2 linked regions of the Homo sapiens genome follow. The protein of the gene in region 1 purifies or fractionates together with the protein of each later gene. This does not show direct contact. Each region holds a gene or a part of one and is shown on either strand. Other genes may lie near its edges.

Region 1 (3,751 bases):
TCAGCCTCCTGAGTAGCTGGGATTACAGGCATGTGCCACCATGCCTGGCTAATTTTTGTTTTTTGTTTTAGTAGAGACGGGGTTTCACCATATTGGCCAGGCTGGTCTTGAACTCCTGACCTCGTGATCTGCCCGTCTCGGCCTCCCAAAATGCTGGGATTACAGGCATAGGCCACCGCGCCTGGCTGCCACTTAAATTTTTATTACTTTCATGGGACTCAAGTCACTCCACTTATTTAATCGCTTTAATACAGGGATGCTCTTTGAAGGCAGGGACTTTTCCTACTTATTTTTGCTGCAATGCTTTTCACAGTGTTTTATGAAGTAGAAGTTTAACAAATACTTGTTTAATTGAACCAAATGTTGATGCTAACTGTAATAGTACAATATAGTGATTATGATTATGTATTTACTGGAAAAAGTTCCTCTTCTTTAGGAATGAAGAAAAATATATTGGCACTATTAAAATAACAATACTGACAGACAGACAAACCCTAAATGAGTACATAAGATCTGACCCTGAAGATCATGGTGTAATTACACCATTCAGTATTCATTAGGTAAATAATTCCTATGTAAATTCCACCAAAATTTCAGCACTAAGAAAACTGGAAAGAAAGAAAAATCTCACCTGATCCTCTTTTGCTCTGTCAGGTCACCCTCACTAACCAACATCGCTGATAATAACCGAAGGGTTGAATTGGCAGATTTAGACTGGTTGTTTTTCATACCCAACAGCCACCTTACCAGAAGTTTAATTGCCTGTACCTATAAAATATTAACATGCTAAAAAAAGAAAGCAACTTAAAATTCCAATTAAAGGGAAAATTAATTTAATTAGATTAATGAGATTACTCATCTCCATCAGCAGACATTTTATTAAATAAGTCTATGGGATAATAACAGCAACAATACGAACTAATATTTACTCTGTGCTTAACCAGTGCCAGGCACTTTTCTTAGATCTGTAAATGTATTAACTTATTTAATCTCCCAAAAAATTCTTATGAGGAAGATTTTTTTTTTTCCAACAGATAAGGCAATTGAGACACATTATTATCATAGATAACTTGCTTAAAAGTCTGGTTCCAGAATTTAGGCTTCTCATACTTAGATGTTTGTGCAAGATTTTGAAACTATTTGAAAACATATACTTTAAAAACAACAATTTAAACTATACAGGCCGGGGGTGGTGACTCACGCCTGTAATCCCAGCACTTTGGGAGGCCAAGGCAGGTGGATCACTTGAGGTCAGGCGTTTGAGACCAGCCTAGCCAACATGGTGAAACCGTGTCTATACTAAAAAACCCCGTCTCTACTAAAAAAAAAAAAAAAAAAAAATTAGTCAGGCATGGTGGCACACGCCTGTAGTCCCAGCTACTCAGGAGGCTGAGGCATGAGAATTGCTTGAACCCGGGAGGCAGAGGTTGCAGTGAGCTGAGATTGTGCCACTGCACTCCAGCCTGGGTGACAGAGCAAAACTCTGTTTCATAAAAAAACCAAAACACACACACACACACACACACACACACACACACACACACACCCCACAACTGTACTGATTGTGGTGACTGAAAATAACTTGAGAGTTTCAGTTTTGTGGTATTGAAAAACTACTTTGAAGAAACCATCAAGTCTGATTCAGTCTCATTTAACATTGTGACCAAAAAAATGGGATTTTGTGTAATTATTGGTAGTCATAATTACTTAGAAATGTCTAGTCAAAAGATTGTTACCAATATATGTGAAAAAGCTAGCCAAAAAATCAAAGTATTATTTATTATATTTATTGACAACCTGGAAAAATGAACTGATAGAATATATGATGACTACAAAGCAACACAAAGTGAAAGATTATCAAAGAAGATGATACAATCTTATTTTAAATCCCAAATCTGCCACTTTTCAACTGAGCTTTACATCTATTAAATGTCACAAATTTAGTAACAATCATCTCTATCTGCTCTGTCACCCAGGCTGGAGTGTACTGGCATGATCACAACTCACTGTAGCCTTGACCTCCTGGGCTCAAGCGATCCTCCTGCCTCAGCTTTCTGAGTAGGTGGAACTATAGGTATGCACCACCACACCCGGCCAAATTATCATTATTATTATTTGAGACCGAGTTTCACTCTGTTGCCCAAGCTGGAGGGCGGTGGCGGGACCTTGGCTCACTGCAACCTCTACCTCCCAGGTTCAAGTGACTGTCCTGCCTCAGCCTCCGAAGTAGCTGGGATTACAGATGTGCAACACCATGCCTAGCTAGTTTTTGTATTTTTAGTAGACAAGGGGTTTCACCATGTTGTCCAGACTGGTCTTGAACTCCTGACCCCAAGTGATCTGCCTGCCTCAGCCTCCCAAAGTGCTGGGATTATAGGCGTGAGCCACCATGCCTAGCCCAACTAAATTATTTTTAATATTTTGTAGAGACATGGCTCACTATGCTGCCCAGGTTGGTCTTGAACTCTTGGGCTCAAGCGATCCTCCTGCTCTGCCTCCCAAAGTGCTGGGATAATAGGTGTGAAAAACAAATCAAAGTATTATTTATTATATTTATTGACAACCAGGAAAAATGAATTGATAGAATATATGATGATGATGAAGCAACACAAAGTGAAACAGATTATCAAAGAAGATGATACAATCTTATTTTAAATCCCAAATCTGCCACAGTGCCCAGCTTGACAATTACCTATCTTTGCCAAGTTAATATTCATATGCTTGTAGATAGTGGTGATGAGGCTGGATTTAAGATGCCTCTGAGCACCGTCATTCTATAAACAGTCTCTCTATAAAACAGCCTCATTAAGATTGCTTTAGCAGGCAGAAGACACTGACATGTAATAAACAATGACAACCACAATGTCTTCAATAAACCATTTTTTGCAATGGATTTTAAAATAAAGTACCTCCTTAACAAATGCTTATTAACTATTAGGTTTAATTAAAAAAGGCTCCCAGCTAGGCACGATGGCTTAAGCTCATAATCCCAGCACTTTGGGAGGCTGAAGTGGGAGGATCAGCTGAGCCCAGGAGTTCAAGACCAAACTGAGCAACACAGCAAGATCCCATCTCTGTTTATTAAATTTTTTAAAGGTGAGGAAGATAACTACAAAATGTCCCTTTTTTAAACATGAAGATTATCAAGGCCTAAACAAATTTACCTTTGCTAGTACTTCAGGGGAAACCTCTTCATCTGGAGACCACAGTTTTCCATTCTTTTCACCTGTTGACTATAGACAATTGAATAAATTTAGCTATTAGCATGAAAAAAAAAATTTATGTTTTTGCTGATTAAGTTTTTCATGTTGATCAACACAGCCTCTGAGAAACCTACGGGAACATCACCAACCAGAGCTTGGAAAAGGACAAAGTTAGAAGACTCATACTTCCCAATTTTGAAACTTACTATAAAACCTACAGTAATCAAGACAGTGTGGCTGGTACTGGCAAGGATAGACATATAGACTAATGGAATAGAGAACTCAGAAAACCCTTGCATATATGGTAATTCATTTTTGACAAAGGATGCCAAGACCATCTTTAGTGAAAGAACAGTCTCTTCAACAAATGGTGCTAGAAAAACTGGATATTCAGCCGGGTGCAGAGGGTCAAGCCTGTAATCCCAGCACTATGGGGGGATGAGGCAGGTGGATCACTTGAGGTCAGGAGTTTGAGACCAGCCTGGCTAACATGGCAAAACCCTGCCTCTTCTAAAAACACAAAAAAATTAGTTGGGCATGGTGGTGCA
Region 2 (3,751 bases), on another chromosome or scaffold:
TCTCCTAGGTACATTGTATGTTATCTTATTTGGTTCTCACATTGGTCTTGTAAAGGGTATACTGTTAACGCCCTTTTGCACATCAAGACACCGAGACTCAGGGAGGCTGAATAGCTTGACCTTAGCTAGTAAGTAGCTGTGTGAGAGCTGATATTCAAAGCCACTTTCAACTATCATACCAAGGTGACCTCCCAAAATAAAGATGCATCCTGCAGCAGAATGTATGCTGTAATTGGAACCTCCCTAGGATTGCCATATTTAGCCAACAAAAGGAAACAAGACAGGAAAAACCAGGATGCCCTATTAAATTTGAATTTCAGATAAATAATGAATAATTTTTTAGTATAAATAAATTTCAAATATTCTATGTCCCAAATATTATATGGGGCATGCTTCTACTGAAATTTCTTATTGCTTACCTGATACTCAGATGTAACTGGGTAACCTGTGTTTTATCTGGCAGCTCTAAACCTTCAGTGCTTTGCCTTACTACAGCCTTGCAGTTGGCTTCTCAGCCTTCTTAAGTAGAATTGTTAAGTGTGTAGTGAACCGGAAATGAGACAGTTGTGGAATGAAAGGCTGCTGCTTTCTTCAGAACCTTCTCCCTGGGCTGGATCCCTACAGGACCTACTGGTGCCCTTCCTGCAACTCCAAACTGAGTAGCCTGTGGGTTGGCACTTCTGCTTGAGGGCAGTGCTCAGGCCATGTGGATGCTGGAGAAATGCCTGAGGGTGGCCTCTTGCTCCATGGCTCCCACTGCAGGAGTGGCCATTTCCCACCTGGACTCCATTGTGTTCTTCTGTGGTGTGTCTTTTTAGTTTTGTCTTCTTAACTTGGTAAAATAGTTGAGCACAGGAATTTATCTCTTTTTTTTGAGATGGAGTTTCACTCTTATTGCCCAGGCTGGAGTGCAATGGCACAATCTCAGCTCATTACAACCTCCGCCTCCCAAATTCAAGCAATTCTCCTGCCTCAGTCTCCCAAGTAGCTGGGATTACAGGCATGTGCTATCATGACTGGCTAGTTTTGTATTTTTAGTAGAGATGGGGTTTCACTATGTTGGTCAGGCTGGTCCCAAACTCCTGACCTCAAGTGATCCACCCGCCTTGGCCTCCCAAAGTGCTGAGATTACAGGTGTGAGTCACCGCACCCGGCTGGGACTTAATCTTTGTGGTGAATTGTTTTTATTACAAACACGATAGCGCTTTAAAAAACACTTTATGGAATGAAGTCAAAGAAAATAAAATAAAAATGCTTTTTAAAAGAAAAATAGCTTAATTATAATTTTAAAAGCAATAAAATTCATAGTAAATAATTTATAAATATAAAAATATACAAAGAATATGTACCCTGGAAGCCTAACAATAACCATTGTCTACATTTTGATATACTTTTCTTTGTTTTATTGTCTCACTGGAAGAAAGTATATATATGTCTATATGCACACATACTACATATAAATAAACACACGTATTTACAACTTAACTAAAAGCTTAAAGTATGTGCAGAGTGCATACAATTTTTTAACCAGTAATTTCCCATTTCATATTATATCATGGTTATTTTCTCACTTTGCCAAATATTCTTTGAAGAAATTTTAATAGTTCTATAATAGTTCACTGCATGGATTTTTTTAAAATTCTGGTTTTAAGCTAGTTTTATACTAAGACTGAAATAAGCATTGTTGTACATAATTCTTTGACTCAATTTCTCAGGCTATCTATGGATTTCTATAAAGGGAGTTATGGGATCAAAGGTTAAAATGTTTGGAGGTTCCTGATACATTTTAGTAACTACTTTTTGATGGAGCTTAAGAATCAAAAAGCAGTTGTAGCTGGGTATGATGGCATGTGCCTGTGTTCCCAGCTACTCCAGAGGCTGAAGCGAGAGGATCCCTTGAGCCCAGGAGTTCGAAGCTTCAGATTGTGCTACCTTACTCCAGCCTGGGGAATAGAATGAGGCCTTGTCTCTTAAAAAAAAAAAAAAAAAGCAGTTGTGATTCCCTACCAGCATTCTGTCCCTTTTTATACAACGAACTTGAGTATAGTACCTTAAAACATCATGGTTAAGTGTTGTGCGCCATATGATTTAGTGACTTCTTTGTGTAAAGTTTCCTGGAACTGACTTAAATCCATCAAATGCTTCTGTCTTATTTTCAGATGGGTGATTTACAATGACCACAAAGTTTGTGCCTCAGAAAGGCCCCCTAAAGACCTGGGCTACATGTACTTTTACCGCAGGATACCAAGCTAAACCTCAAATATAAAAATTGGCGAAAAGAAGCCATACGCCTTTTTAATTTGCCAAAAAAAAAAAGAAGAAGAAGAAGTTGAAACAACTAGACATGAAGGAATATATGGGGTATTTATCGTTTATTTAAAGAGCACGATCAGTTGACACCTTCTGAAATAGAACTGAGAAGAAATTTCTATTAGTGATGATACACTATTATATTGTAGATAGTTTTTATAAATGTTCAAAAAGATGATGATATTTAAAAACAAAAAAAGTATTCATATTGCTGGTGGAGGATCTGCCATCAGCACATCAAAAATGGGGATGTGCCCCCAGCCCTCTATTTTGCTTTGGGGGTCAGTGATAGTGGCCTCTGGAGAAACCAAATAATGTGGCCAGTGGTGTGGCCTTACCCACAACAAATGAAAAGCCCACTTGTGTTTCATATAGAAAATCAGCAGTTGGGTGGGGCTTTATTTGTGACATAATTTTTTTCATGACATACAATAATTTCTGATGTATCCATGTAGATATTATGCTCTGTCCATAATAGAGCCTCTGCAATGAAAGATATTTTTAATTTGTCACATTAAAATTCATAATACGATTGTGTGAATGTGTGTGAGACTGACTGAGAGTGTGAGACTTTTACTAGAAAAGTGAGTCCACTAGAAAATCTGTGACAAGTTGGTTTTTAAAGTCTGAACAGTTGATATTAAGCATATCTGAAAAAAGCAAGTAAATATTTTAACAAAACTATGACTCAGGAACCTTCGAGAAGATTAGTTCCCCACTTAGATTTTTAAGGAGTAAAAAGGGCTGAGTTATGCCTTTAAGTGCTGTCAAGAATTCACTTGGGTTTGGGACATTTGCTGGTGTAATGCTAGATGCCCACAGCAGCATAATATTGTACTTTGTCAAAGGTAGGTAAATTCTCTGTTTCTCAGCAGCCCTTTCCCCAAAAGGTATGGTGTTTATTTTTAGTAAAAATAGCTAATCTCTTTTTACCATCTCACATGATAACTCTTTGGAGTCATGTCAAGTGCCCCAAATTTGTCTGTGATTTTCCCATCTCTGAGCTCTTTATCTGCCTCCGTTTCCTTGTTTTTCTGGGGCCAGAGTCTCATCTCTGCCTTTTTTTGGTGTATCACCTTCTGACTTGCCTTCATTGCTTGTCTGATGTGACCAACAGTGTGATCTTGGACACACTAAGGATTTTAGATGCAAAGAAACTTTATACAACATTATGAAAGACTATCCTTTCCATTTTGGTTATTTCAGCATTTTAGTTGCAACCTGGGATTAGATTAGAGTTTCCAACGTGATGAAAAGTGGAATGATAGCATTCTATAATTTCCATAATTTTCCTACTGGTCCGTACCAAATTCTAGAGTCTCTGGAGTTGCTATTTCAGAGTATTTGGTCAAACGAAAAAGAATTTATTGCTGTCTGTTTAACATGTATTTGTTTGGTTGAAAGGATCTTTTTAGAAACTGTAGGAAAATAAACAGAACCA

Evidence for each region. Proteins that work in one complex are often made in the same cells at the same time.
Region 2: the proteins of PDS5A (region 1) and USP13 purify together in Homo sapiens (affinity purification with mass spectrometry; 2 studies listed by BioGRID, with this or other methods). This does not show direct contact.

The regions. Positions count from the first base shown.
Region 1 is NC_000004.12:39,866,230-39,869,980, forward strand, and holds part of PDS5A (sister chromatid cohesion protein PDS5 homolog A), read right to left. Parts: intron 3,234-3,751; coding exon 3,165-3,233; intron 769-3,164; coding exon 632-768; intron 1-631. UniProt on the Homo sapiens protein: Probable regulator of sister chromatid cohesion in mitosis which may stabilize cohesin complex association with chromatin. May couple sister chromatid cohesion during mitosis to DNA replication.
Region 2 is NC_000003.12:179,781,889-179,785,639, forward strand, and holds part of USP13 (ubiquitin carboxyl-terminal hydrolase 13), read left to right. Parts: intron 1-2,159; coding exon 2,160-2,253; 3' UTR 2,254-3,751. UniProt on the Homo sapiens protein: Deubiquitinase that mediates deubiquitination of target proteins such as BECN1, MITF, SKP2 and USP10 and is involved in various processes such as autophagy, endoplasmic reticulum-associated degradation (ERAD), cell cycle progression or DNA damage response.